Regions from separate parts of the Homo sapiens genome. Here region 2 is linked to region 1. The links come from fine-mapping of genetic effects on gene expression. A gene starts in region 1. The other region holds a variant in brackets. All regions are shown on one strand. Distances are from middle to middle. Region 1 holds the start of LINC01644 (long intergenic non-protein coding RNA 1644). Region 2 has its middle 290 kb from the start of EPIC1.

Region 1 (5,379 bases):
TACAGGCATAAGCCACCACGCCCAGCCGGAGTCCCACTTTTCTAAGTGACCAAGGAAATGGAAATTAAACCACAGTGAACAGCATTGTAAACATCCCCAGTTCCAGCCACACCAAGGATTGGTAAGGATGTGCAAATCAACAGAACACGCATGCAGCCAGCGGGGGATAAACTGCCACAACATCTCTGCTAAAAACTCTGCCGATATCCTCAGAGGATGCTCTGCAGGTTAGACGCTCCATTCCCAGGCAGGCATCCTAAAGGAACACGCCATCTTCCACAATGACATCACACAAACGTCCACCACGGCACTGCAAGTGTCAGTCCACAAAGAAATGAGTAGATAACATTCTATGGAGTGATATGAAAAAATACAACGAAACAGTAACAATGAATTTTAGGTCTCAAAAATACTAGTAAAAAAATGTAAAAGCCAATAACATAGAATGCTATATTCGTACATTTTAAAAACTTAGAACAGCATTATGATTGCTAGACATATGTGTGTGTGTGTGTGTGTGTGCGCGTGCGTGCGTACCTATATATCTAGGTAATAAAAATACATGATGTTGATTGCAAAAGAAAAGTGACACAAACTTCATGACAGTGACAGATTCTGGGGAGAGACAGAGAGGGTCAGCCACAGGAGAAGAAACCCTGGAGAGGTCTTCAATTTTTTCTGAAGGCCTGGATTTGTTTTATAAAAGAGAGATAACTAAAGGAAACTTCCAGAATGTTAATAGTTGCTCATGCTAGCTGGTAGGTGCATGGACTTCAGTCATGCTATTTATTCTCTGTTCCTTCTTTTTTGAAAAGAGAGAGAGGAAAGGACTATAAGGCAATACAAACTAAAACAGTTCGATGCTAAGGCAAGAGTATAATAAATAAGGCCACAGGCAGACACTTCCACACATTAGGATTCAGGAGCTGGCACAGTGGCATTTCCATTTAGAGAGGGCCGTAAAGGGCTGCAGAATCGTCCACCTCTGGGGCAGGTCTCCAGCTTGACTCCTACCTCACCTCATTTGCCAATTAAGGAGGTAAGTGCTGTATGGGGTGAAGACAGAAACCACGGCAGGACTGGGGGGAAATGGAAATCGATGTTTTTCTGACCTCGTGACAGGAGGCCGTTCCCATGCAAAACATCCAAGGAAAGCACCATAAAGGGGGCGATTGATGGACTTTACTATATACCACATAAAAATAAAAATGTTATTCTTGCAAAAACACTAGAAACAACATGTAAATGCAAATGATGAATTTTACAGGAGGGAAAGGAAGAGCTGACCTGAGTCCAGGTGGTTAGGAGAGGTGACAGCGTGCTGGCAGTCCTCACAGCCCTCGCTCGCTCTGGGCACCTCCTCTGCCTGGGCTCCCACTTTGGTGACACTTGAGGAGCCCTTCAGCCCACCGCTGCACTGTGGGAGCCCCTTTCTGGGCTGGTCGAGGCCGGAGCCGGCTCCCTCAGCTTGCAGGGAGGTGTGGAGGGAGAGGCGCGAGCGGGAACCCGGGCTGCGCGCGGCCCTTGCGGGCCAGCTGGAGTTCCGGGTGGGCGTGGGCTTGGCGGGCCGCGCACTCGGAGCAGACGGCCAGCCCTGCCGGCCCCGCGCAGTGAGGCGCTTAGCACCCGGGCCAGTGGCTGCGGAGGGTGTACTGGGTCCCCCAGCAGTGCCGGCCCACTGGCGCTGCGCTCCATTTCTCGCCGGGCCTTAGCTGCCTTCCCGCGGGGCAGGGCTCGGGACCTGCAGCCCGCCATGCCTGAGCCTCCCACCCCCTCCATGGGCTCCTGTGCGGCCCAAGCCTCCCCGACGAGCGCCGCCCCCTGCTCCACGGCGCCCAGTCCCATCCACCGCCCAAGGGCTGAGGAGTGCCGGCGCACGGCGCGGGACTAGCAGGCAGCTCCACCTGCAGCCCCGGTGCGGAATCCACTGGATGAAGCCAGCTGGGCTCCTGAGTCTGGTGGGGACTTGCAGAACCTTTATGTCTAGCTAAGGGATTGTAAATGCACCAATCAGCACCCTGTGTCTAGCTCAGGGTTTGTGAATGCACCAGTCCACACTCTGTATCTAGCTATTCTGGTGGGGCCTTGGAGAACCTTTGGGTCTAGCTCAGGGATTGTAAACGCACCAATCAGCGCCCTGTCAAAACAGACCACTCGGGTCTACCAATCAGCAGGATGTGGGTGGGGCCAGATAAGTGAATAAAAGCAGGCTGCCCAAGCTAGCAGCGGCAACCTGCTGGGATCCCTTTTCACGCTGTAGAAGCTTTGTTCTTTTGCTCTTTGCAATAAATGTTGCTATTGCTAACTCTTTGGGTCCACACTGCTTTTATGAGCTGTAACACTTACCGCTAAGGTTTGCAGCTTCACTCCTGAAGCCAGCGAGACCACGAGCCCACCGGGAGGGATGAACAACTCCAGATGCGCCGTCTTAAGAGCTGTAACACTCACCGCGAAGGTCTGTAGCTTCACTCCTGAGCCAGCTAGACCACGAACCCACACAGAAGGAAGAAACTCCGAACACGTCCGAACATCAGAAGGAACAAACTCCAGACGCACCACCTTAAGAGCTGTAACACTCACTGCAAGGGTCCGTGGCTTCGTTCTTGAAGTCAGTGAGACCAAGAACCCACGAATGCAGGACACAGTTAGGTAGAGGGGCCTCTGGACACAAAGGTGGGGCCCCTGGGGTGGAAAAGGGGAGCTCCTGGGGTCACATATAGTTGGCCCTTGCCCGGGCCCAAAGCAGTGCCTTCCTCCTCGCGTCCTGCCCCAGTGCCCTGCTGCAGACCAGTAACTACCCTTCTTCCAAACATTGGCTGATCAGGAACATCTGGCAGATTAACGAAAGGACACAGGAGTGGTGAAATCTCAGAGCAAGTTCCTAGGTGTCAGAGTTCCTAAGCTTTCTCTCCTTAAATGCCCTTTCTGTTGTGCTAGGGGCCTTTACATTCAGAAGTAAGTCTAAACACTAAGATGTGTTTGTGAACTCTAAACTTCCTCTTCCTGGAACACGTAGGTGTGCATTACAACTTCACTCCAGCAGCCACGCCTTCCTTTGGTTATTCATGTAGCCACCTTATCCTGCACAGGTCTGTGGCAGGCCGTGAGACGGTGACCAGAGAAGCAGTCAGCACTCACGGCCCCTGCCCTTTCAGAGTTTACGCTTGCTTGGAAGCCTCCAGAATGGGGATAAGCACAAGACATTTATGCTGGGCTTCATCCAGGAAGCTCTGGTGGAAGGAAGAGAAAGCAGCCCACACAGCAAGGTTCAGGAGAAGATTCCCATGAAGGACAACTGGGGTTCAGCCCCATCCAGCAGATGACACGGAGCCGGCCTCGGAGGTGTCCTCACCGTGGGACACTGGCATCTGAGCTACCTCAGGGCGTAGCCGGCCGATGTTCCCAGCCTCCCCCTGGGCACAGCCAGCCCAGGCCAAGTGGTCTAGGTAAGCAGCCCAGAAAGGGGACACAGGTGAGGTTGGGACAGCACCTTCCAGGGGGTTAGGTGAACAGCAAGGTCAAGAAAACACACAGCAAGCACCATGGTGGGGTGGGGACCGAGGGGTGACAAGGCTGAGGATGGAATCGCAGATGAGTCTTGAGGCATTTGATATCTAGCATTTCCTTTTGATTCTTTTAAAGTTTTCATCTCTCTGCTTACATTTACATGTCATTTACTTTTTTCATTAGAGCCCATAACAATGACTCACAGATATTTTAAGTTCCTTTTTGGATAATTTTCAAATCTTTGTTATATCTGAGCCTTGTTCTGTGTTTTTCTCTTGCCTTTTAATTTTTTGTTAGAAGCCAGACATGATGCATCAGGTAATAAAAACGGAGGCAATTAGGCTTTTGGTGTGAGGTTTTATATTAATCTGGCCAGGAGTTAGACTGCGTGTAATGATTGCTGTCGTTGTATATCCCAGGGGCTTTAGTTTTCTTGTGTTTTTCCCCATTTTCTTCGGGGTTTCCTATGAACTTCTTATATAAGAACCTGTGTCTTACAGCTGTCTGGGTTGTAATCCACTGTTACTATCCTGGAACCCTATTGACGTGGTGGTAAGGGGAAGATTCTGTAATTTTTTTTTTTTTTTTTGGAATGGAGTCCCACTCTGTCGCCAGGCTGGAGTGCAGTGGTGCGATCTTGGCTCAGTGCAATCTCCGACTCCCTGGTTCAAGCGATTCTCCTGCCTCAGCCTCATGAGTAGCTGGGACTACAGGCTCATGCCACCATGCCCAGCTAAGTTCTGTATTTTTAGTAGAGACGGGGTTTCACTGTCTTGGCCAGGATGGTCTCTATCTCTTGACCTTGTGATCTGCCCATCTCGGTCTCCTAAAGTCCTGGGATTACAGGCATGAGCCACCACGCCCGGCCGAAAGGTGAAGACAGAGAATCATGACCAAGACTGGTTTACCTGAGACTAAAACCGCTGGCGCCTGTAACAGCAGGGCCACTTTAAAGCTTTCCCCTTTCTAAAACACTTTTCTCTGATCTTTAAGGCAAAGGAAATTTTGGCGGCTTTTTGTCTCTCCTTACATGAGACAGGAAAGCTACAGGGGGCTTGAGCAGGCCAGTCGCTCTTCCTCCAGGTCAGACAAGGGGAAACTGTTGGAAGTCACGGCTTTGTTAAGGAGAATTTTCTGGTCATCTTTCAAAATGGTTCTTTTCCCCTCCCCTTTCTAAAACACTTTTCTCTGATCTTTATGGCAAGAACCTGCTGGGGTTTCAGCAGGTGAAATACATGAGCCTGTTGCAGTCCCCCTAAGACTGGGCCCCAAGAGGTTTTAACTCTCAGGCTAGTCCACACTCAGCCTCTGGCAATTTGTCAAAATTAGTGTTAAAGTGGCTCTACCAGTTACAGGCACCAGTGGTTTTAGTCTCAGGTAAACTAATCGTGGCTATGATTCTCTGTCTTCACCTTTCTCTACAAACTTCAGAGAGGCTGGTTTGCTCTGTGATCTCAATTAGCTGATGGATCTAGGTAAAGTCATTGAGGTTCAGTCTGTTCAGTGTTTTCCCTGATGTGACGATGAGAGGGGGTGACTTCCGTGCTGTTTCCATATTGGGGCTGAAACAGGAAGTCCCATATATGCTCTCCATATGTGTTGTGCACATATGCTGTTAGATAGATACATTCCTAGGTACCTTAGAGTTTTTTGCTATTATCTTAAGTGTATTCATCATCTCTTATTCCTTCCATTATAGTTTCTCAGTTGTTGTTACTAGAATACAGGAGTGGACTTGAATTTTGTATGTTAATGGAACAGGCTCTGAAGCCAGGCAGTCTGGATTTATACCCCAGCTCCTCCACCTGTTAGCTGTAATACTTCAAGCAACTTCAGTACTACACTTAGATTCAGTGTTCTTCTGTATAAAAC
Region 2 (5,379 bases), 430 kb before region 1:
GCCCTCAGCTACATGCACTGTGGGGGTGACTGTTCCACACTTCAGATCATCACATCCTAAATGTACACAGTGGCATCTGAAAGAAAGGCCCCTTGGCTGTGGGTGATGGTCCCTACCTGACTTAGTGACTCCAATTCCAGCCTCTGCCTGGAGACATCACCCCTTCTGATTTATGGGCATTTGGCCATATCTGCTCACAATCATTGTCTTCCTTTTATAGGAGATTTTTAGTTTTATTGGCAGATTTAAATTCAGGTGGACATTTATAGACCCATACAATATAACACTTAATTAAATGATGTCACATGAAAGGACTCATGCTAAGGACGGCCTCTGAGCTGGGCATGGTGAGGCTCGGCTGTTGCAAATCCCCACAAAGTCCAGCCACAGAACAGCAATCCAGGCTCAGGCAGACATGGTCAAGGCTGGCCCTACATCAGGATCTGGAGCTTGGAGCCTCCAGCAGAGGCTGGGAAAGGAAGGGGTGAGCAGGGGCCATGCAGGAAGGGGTGAGAAGGAGTCCAGGTCACCACGGGAAAGGCAGAAGTGAGGAGGATGATGGCCATAACCGCAATGAAGGCAGTGACTTCACCACACAGTAGGCATGCTTAGAGTGGGGGGCCCTGGAGTGTCGACGGGTGGTTAGTGTGCACTGCATGCTGGGCCTTGAGTCCTGCTTTCCAGGACTGACGTGTAATCCTCTTGCCAACCCTACACAGCACAGACGATGATGAGTATTTTGAATTTATAGATGAGGAAACTGAGGTTCAAACAGATTAAGTAATCAGAGTCCAGGTCTGTCTGATCCACAGGCCTGTGCCTTCCACACGGCGCTATCCTGCCTCACGGTGGGAGGGCGTATTCAGTAGGGGCTCAGCATATTCAGGATAAGGGACTCACAGACAAGGATATCAAAGAATGACTGACAGGTGAAATCCAGGCTGGGTCAATTCAGAGAAGGCTCTGGAGGAAGGCTAAGGGGGTGCGACTTAATTCACACTGGTGATGGGGAGCCAGTAAAGGATTCTCAGCCAAATGGAGCAGGTTGGAAACTTCTTAGGGTGATTGGCAGAGGGATTGGAGCCCTTTAGGTGCATGGTCACGTAGGAGAGCCCCATGTTCGGGCAGGTTTGCAACTTCAGCAAGCTTTATTGTATGGGTACATTGTGTGCCCAGGTGGGAATAAGCACACTTCGAACAGAATTCTTGAGCGGGGGTGGGTGATGCTTATCTGGTTGTGCCATTTGGAGCTCTATCTTCTTGTTCCAGGGATCACAGAACAACCATTCAGGTGGATGATGCACGGAGGAATATTTAACTTAGAACATGATGGTGAGTTCAAAACCATTGTTGACAACAGCCTGAATCTGCTCCACCTCTGAGCATGCCACATCCATCAGTGCAGGTCTAGGTACAGACAGCCAAATGTGGACAATGGCCCACAGGTTGATGTCCGGTGCTTTGAGCAAAAGGCAAGGTGAAGACTCTGTGATTGCAGAAACAGGAAGATAGGGCCTTGGGGCTGCTGGGACCTCGATTTCCTCTCTTCATTTTCCTGGGAGGTCTGTGCTGCTCTGGGCACATGCTGCCAGTTCAGACACCACATTCTCAATCCTTACACATGTGCTTGTTCAAGGTTCTTTCAATAAGCAGTCTCTATCGATCCATTTTTGCAAGGTTTGCTCCCTCCTATGTGCTGTAAAATGCTGCTGCCTGTGGTGCTGAGTAACTTGGGGATGGCCACACTGGCTTGCCAGGCTCCTCAGCCCCCACCCCAGGGAACTGGGAGCTGCATCATGAAAGGGTCAAATGCAGAGAGACTGCCCAGCGCCCACGGTGGCCCAGCAGGCTGGGCATGCGTGATCTCCGGGCATACAGCTCGGGCCCCTTGTTGAATAAGCTCTACCTGTAGGAGCCAACAGCCAGCCGTTAGTGCTGCCGTGGAGCCTAATTGAGAATTACCAGGTGGCTGAGGCCCAGACAGGGCTTTGTGCTGGGGTACTCAAGCAGAAATGTTGCTCAGCCCGTGGTGATCCTATTAGGAAGCGGAGAAGTTAATGAATAGTGTGTTCTTTCTTGCTTTCCCTGTCTGCCTTCAGCACGTTGTGTTTATCTACTTATGTATGGAAATCCAGGCCTTCTTAGTAGGCAGAGCAGAGAAGCAGCTTCTTGTCTCACCGAGGAACTGCACAAATCATTCCATTCAGGCAGAAGGCTTGATTGGGCTCTTTGAGTCTAAATAAGATGTCCTTAACCCTTCCTCCACCCAGACCCTTGTTGTTTGAGATGGGCTCTTTTAGGCTGCAAGAAACAAAGAAATGCTCAAAGAACAAAGAAATTCCCAGAGAGAGATTTTTATTATAAGCTACAAGAGACACAAGAGGAGGAAGAACAGCTGCAGAGCCGGCTCCGGAAGCAGGAGCTCGCGAAGGGCACCCAAGGTCGCCAAGGCTCTGGCTGAGCTACCGTGCCGTGTCCTGCGGAGGTGCAGAGGCTGTGGTTTCC[C/T]GTGTGAGTTTCACGTGTGTGACTTTCTCTCATGGCCTCCTCTCTAGCACTCAAGTGCAATCAATCAGACAGGGGGTCTGATGGCTCCCGCCAGTCACCATCTGTGGGGCCAGGCTTCCTCAGGGGGCACTGTGGGTGTGGAGGGAGTCTGGAGCCATGCGACTTCCTGGAATAATCTAGGACATCTGTCAGAACATGGAACTGCTGTTATTTGACAGAAGCAGCAGCCACCACTGTCTGAGCATTGATGGTGCACCAACCACTGGGCTCAGTGTCTGTTGCAGTTATCGAATGTTGCATGATGGATCACCCCAGCACTTAGGGGCCTTTATCGTGTACACAGATTCTATGAGCCATACATTTGGGAAGAGTTTGCTGGGTAGTCCTCGCTTGGGGTCTCTCCTGTCTGCAGTCAGATGTTGGCCAGGCTGTAGTCATCAAAGTTTGATTGAGATGAAGGGTCTACTTCCAAGGCCTCATCCACATGAGTGGCATTTGTTGCCAGCTGTTGGCTGGGGGCCTGGATCCCTCTCTGCACAGAACTGTCCATGGGGCTGCCTGAGGGTCTTCCTGGTGCGCTGGTTCCTTTCTCTCAGAACTAGCAATCCAAGACATACCGGGTGCAAGCTAAAATGACTTGCATGAATTAGGCATTTTCTTTGTATCCCCTGTCCTGATACCAGTGCCTGGCATGTAATGGCACTTCCTTCCTAACTGAAGGAAGAAGAGAAGGAAGGGAGAAAGGAGAGGGAGGGAGGAAAGAGAGGGAGGAGGGAGAGGGAGGTAGGGAGGAAGGAGAAGGAGGAAGGAGAGGGAGGAGAGACAAGGAGGAAGGAGAGGGAAGAAGGAGAGGGAGGAGGGAGAGGCAGTAAAGAGAGGGAGGAGGGGAGGAAGGACAGGGAGGAAGGAGAGAGAAGAGGGAGAGGGACTTAGGGAGGAAGGAGAGGGACTAGGGAGGAAGGAGAGGGAGGGAGGCAGTAAAGGGAGGAAGGAGAGGGAGGGAAGAAGGAAAAATTGTCAAAGTTTGATTGATTTTTCTAAATTAAAGAGTCGCAATACTAAGCTTTTAACCATGCATCAGGACAGATTACAGAGGGCCCTGGGATTGGGCCCATTGCTTTTGGGAAGCAGTGCCTGTTCATGGTTCTGTGCAGGGTGAGTGCCACTGAGTTACACTAATAATCTAAGCCTACCCAGTGGGTTTCTGCTAATGATAAACATCTGAGAACTCACTCAATTTTTCTCCTTCCTCGTTTGCTGACCCTTACGTCAAGGTGTGTGTGAGTGGCCCTGCACCTGAGGATTTCTTTCTTCTGTTATTTTCAATACCAGCTAATTGCATCCTCTCTAAGGCTGCCCCTCCGGCCCAATCCTGCCCCCAGACTGTGACCTCAGCAGGAGCCTTTATACCCTCCCTCCTAACTGCTAAACACTTGGGATTTCCAAGGGCTTGACATAGAATTGGAAGATGTCTAATTAAACTGATTCTTCAGTGTTTGTGAATAAAACAAATGTCCAAGAAGCCATAGAGCATCAGACGCCAAGGACAGGGAAGGGTCCCAAAATCTGGGACACCAGCTGCTCCCCATTTATGATGTGGGTGCTCAGGCTGTGGGGGGGCGGACAGAGGACTGGGAGGAGGAGGAGGTGACCTTGGAAGTTGTTTTTACTAGAGAATCTATAAAATCTGTATGTAAGGAAGCTTCTTTGTTTATGAGCTCATTTTTGTCCCAGGCAATAACTTGTCCTATGTCATGGCGTGATGGTTAGTTCTGAGTGTCAACTTCATTGGATGGAAGGATACAAAGTATTGATCCTGGGTGTGTCTGTGAGGGTGTTGCCAAAGGAGATTAACATTTGAGTCACTGGGCTGGGAAAGGCAGATCCACCCTTAATCTGGGTAGGCATCATCTAATCAGCTGCCAGCATGGCTAGAATATAAACAGGCAGAAATATGTGAAAAGAGAGACTGGCCTAGCCTCCCAGCCTACATCTTTCTCCTGTGCTGGATGCTTCCTGCCCTCGAACATCGGACTCCAAGTTCTTCAGTTTTGGGACTGGGACTGGCTCTCCTTGCTCCTCAGCCTGCAGACAGCCTATTGTAGGACCTTGTGATCATGTGAGTTAATACTTAATAAACTCCCCTTTATATATCTATCTATATATATATAAAATTATTTCTGTATATATACAGAATATATGGAATATGTATATTTCCTTATTTCAGTGAATATATATACAGAATATATGAAATATATATATCCCATCGTATATATATATATCCCATCATATATATATATATATCCCATCATATATATATATATCCCATCATATATATATATCCCATCATATATATATATATATATATATCCCATCATATATATATATCCCATCATATATATATATATATATATCCCATCATATATATATATATATATATATATATATATATATATAGTTCTGTCCCTCTAGAGAATCCTGACTAATACACGTGGTTTACCCCATGTGTTCTGAACATTCCAGAGATCCTGTTTGCTGAATTACCTTTTTCTCATATATCCCTTGTCCTTATACAAATGCCTGTCATGTAATGCCACTCAGAAAGTACCTATGCAAAGGAAGAAAGAGAAGAAGGAAGGAAGGAAGGAAAGAAGGAGGGAAGAAAGGAAGGAAGGAAGATATATACGTATACACACACACATACATATATTCCTGTGATACGGTTATATCGGAATATATGTATCATTCCTATACTATATATATGCACATATCATAGAACCCCCAGAACCCCAAGCATACCACCTACAGGAGGTGGGGAAGGAATTATAACAATTCCAAAATGGGAAATTATGAGAGAAAGCAACATTTACACGA

What was found. PIP is the estimated chance that this variant, and not a neighbour inherited with it, causes the effect.
Region 2: its variant is fine-mapped to the expression of LINC01644 in whole blood (TOPMed, PIP above 0.99).

The regions. Positions count from the first base shown.
Region 1 is chr22:47,484,797-47,490,175 of GRCh38, reverse strand. LINC01644 (long intergenic non-protein coding RNA 1644) reads left to right here and starts at 3,065. Exons shown (of 3, transcript NR_109967.1): 1 at 3,065-3,446.
Region 2 is chr22:47,915,841-47,921,219 of GRCh38, reverse strand. No RefSeq gene overlaps it. Among named protein-coding and RNA genes, the nearest start is that of EPIC1, 290 kb to the right of the region's middle. The variant C/T (reference allele first, on the strand shown) is at 2,506.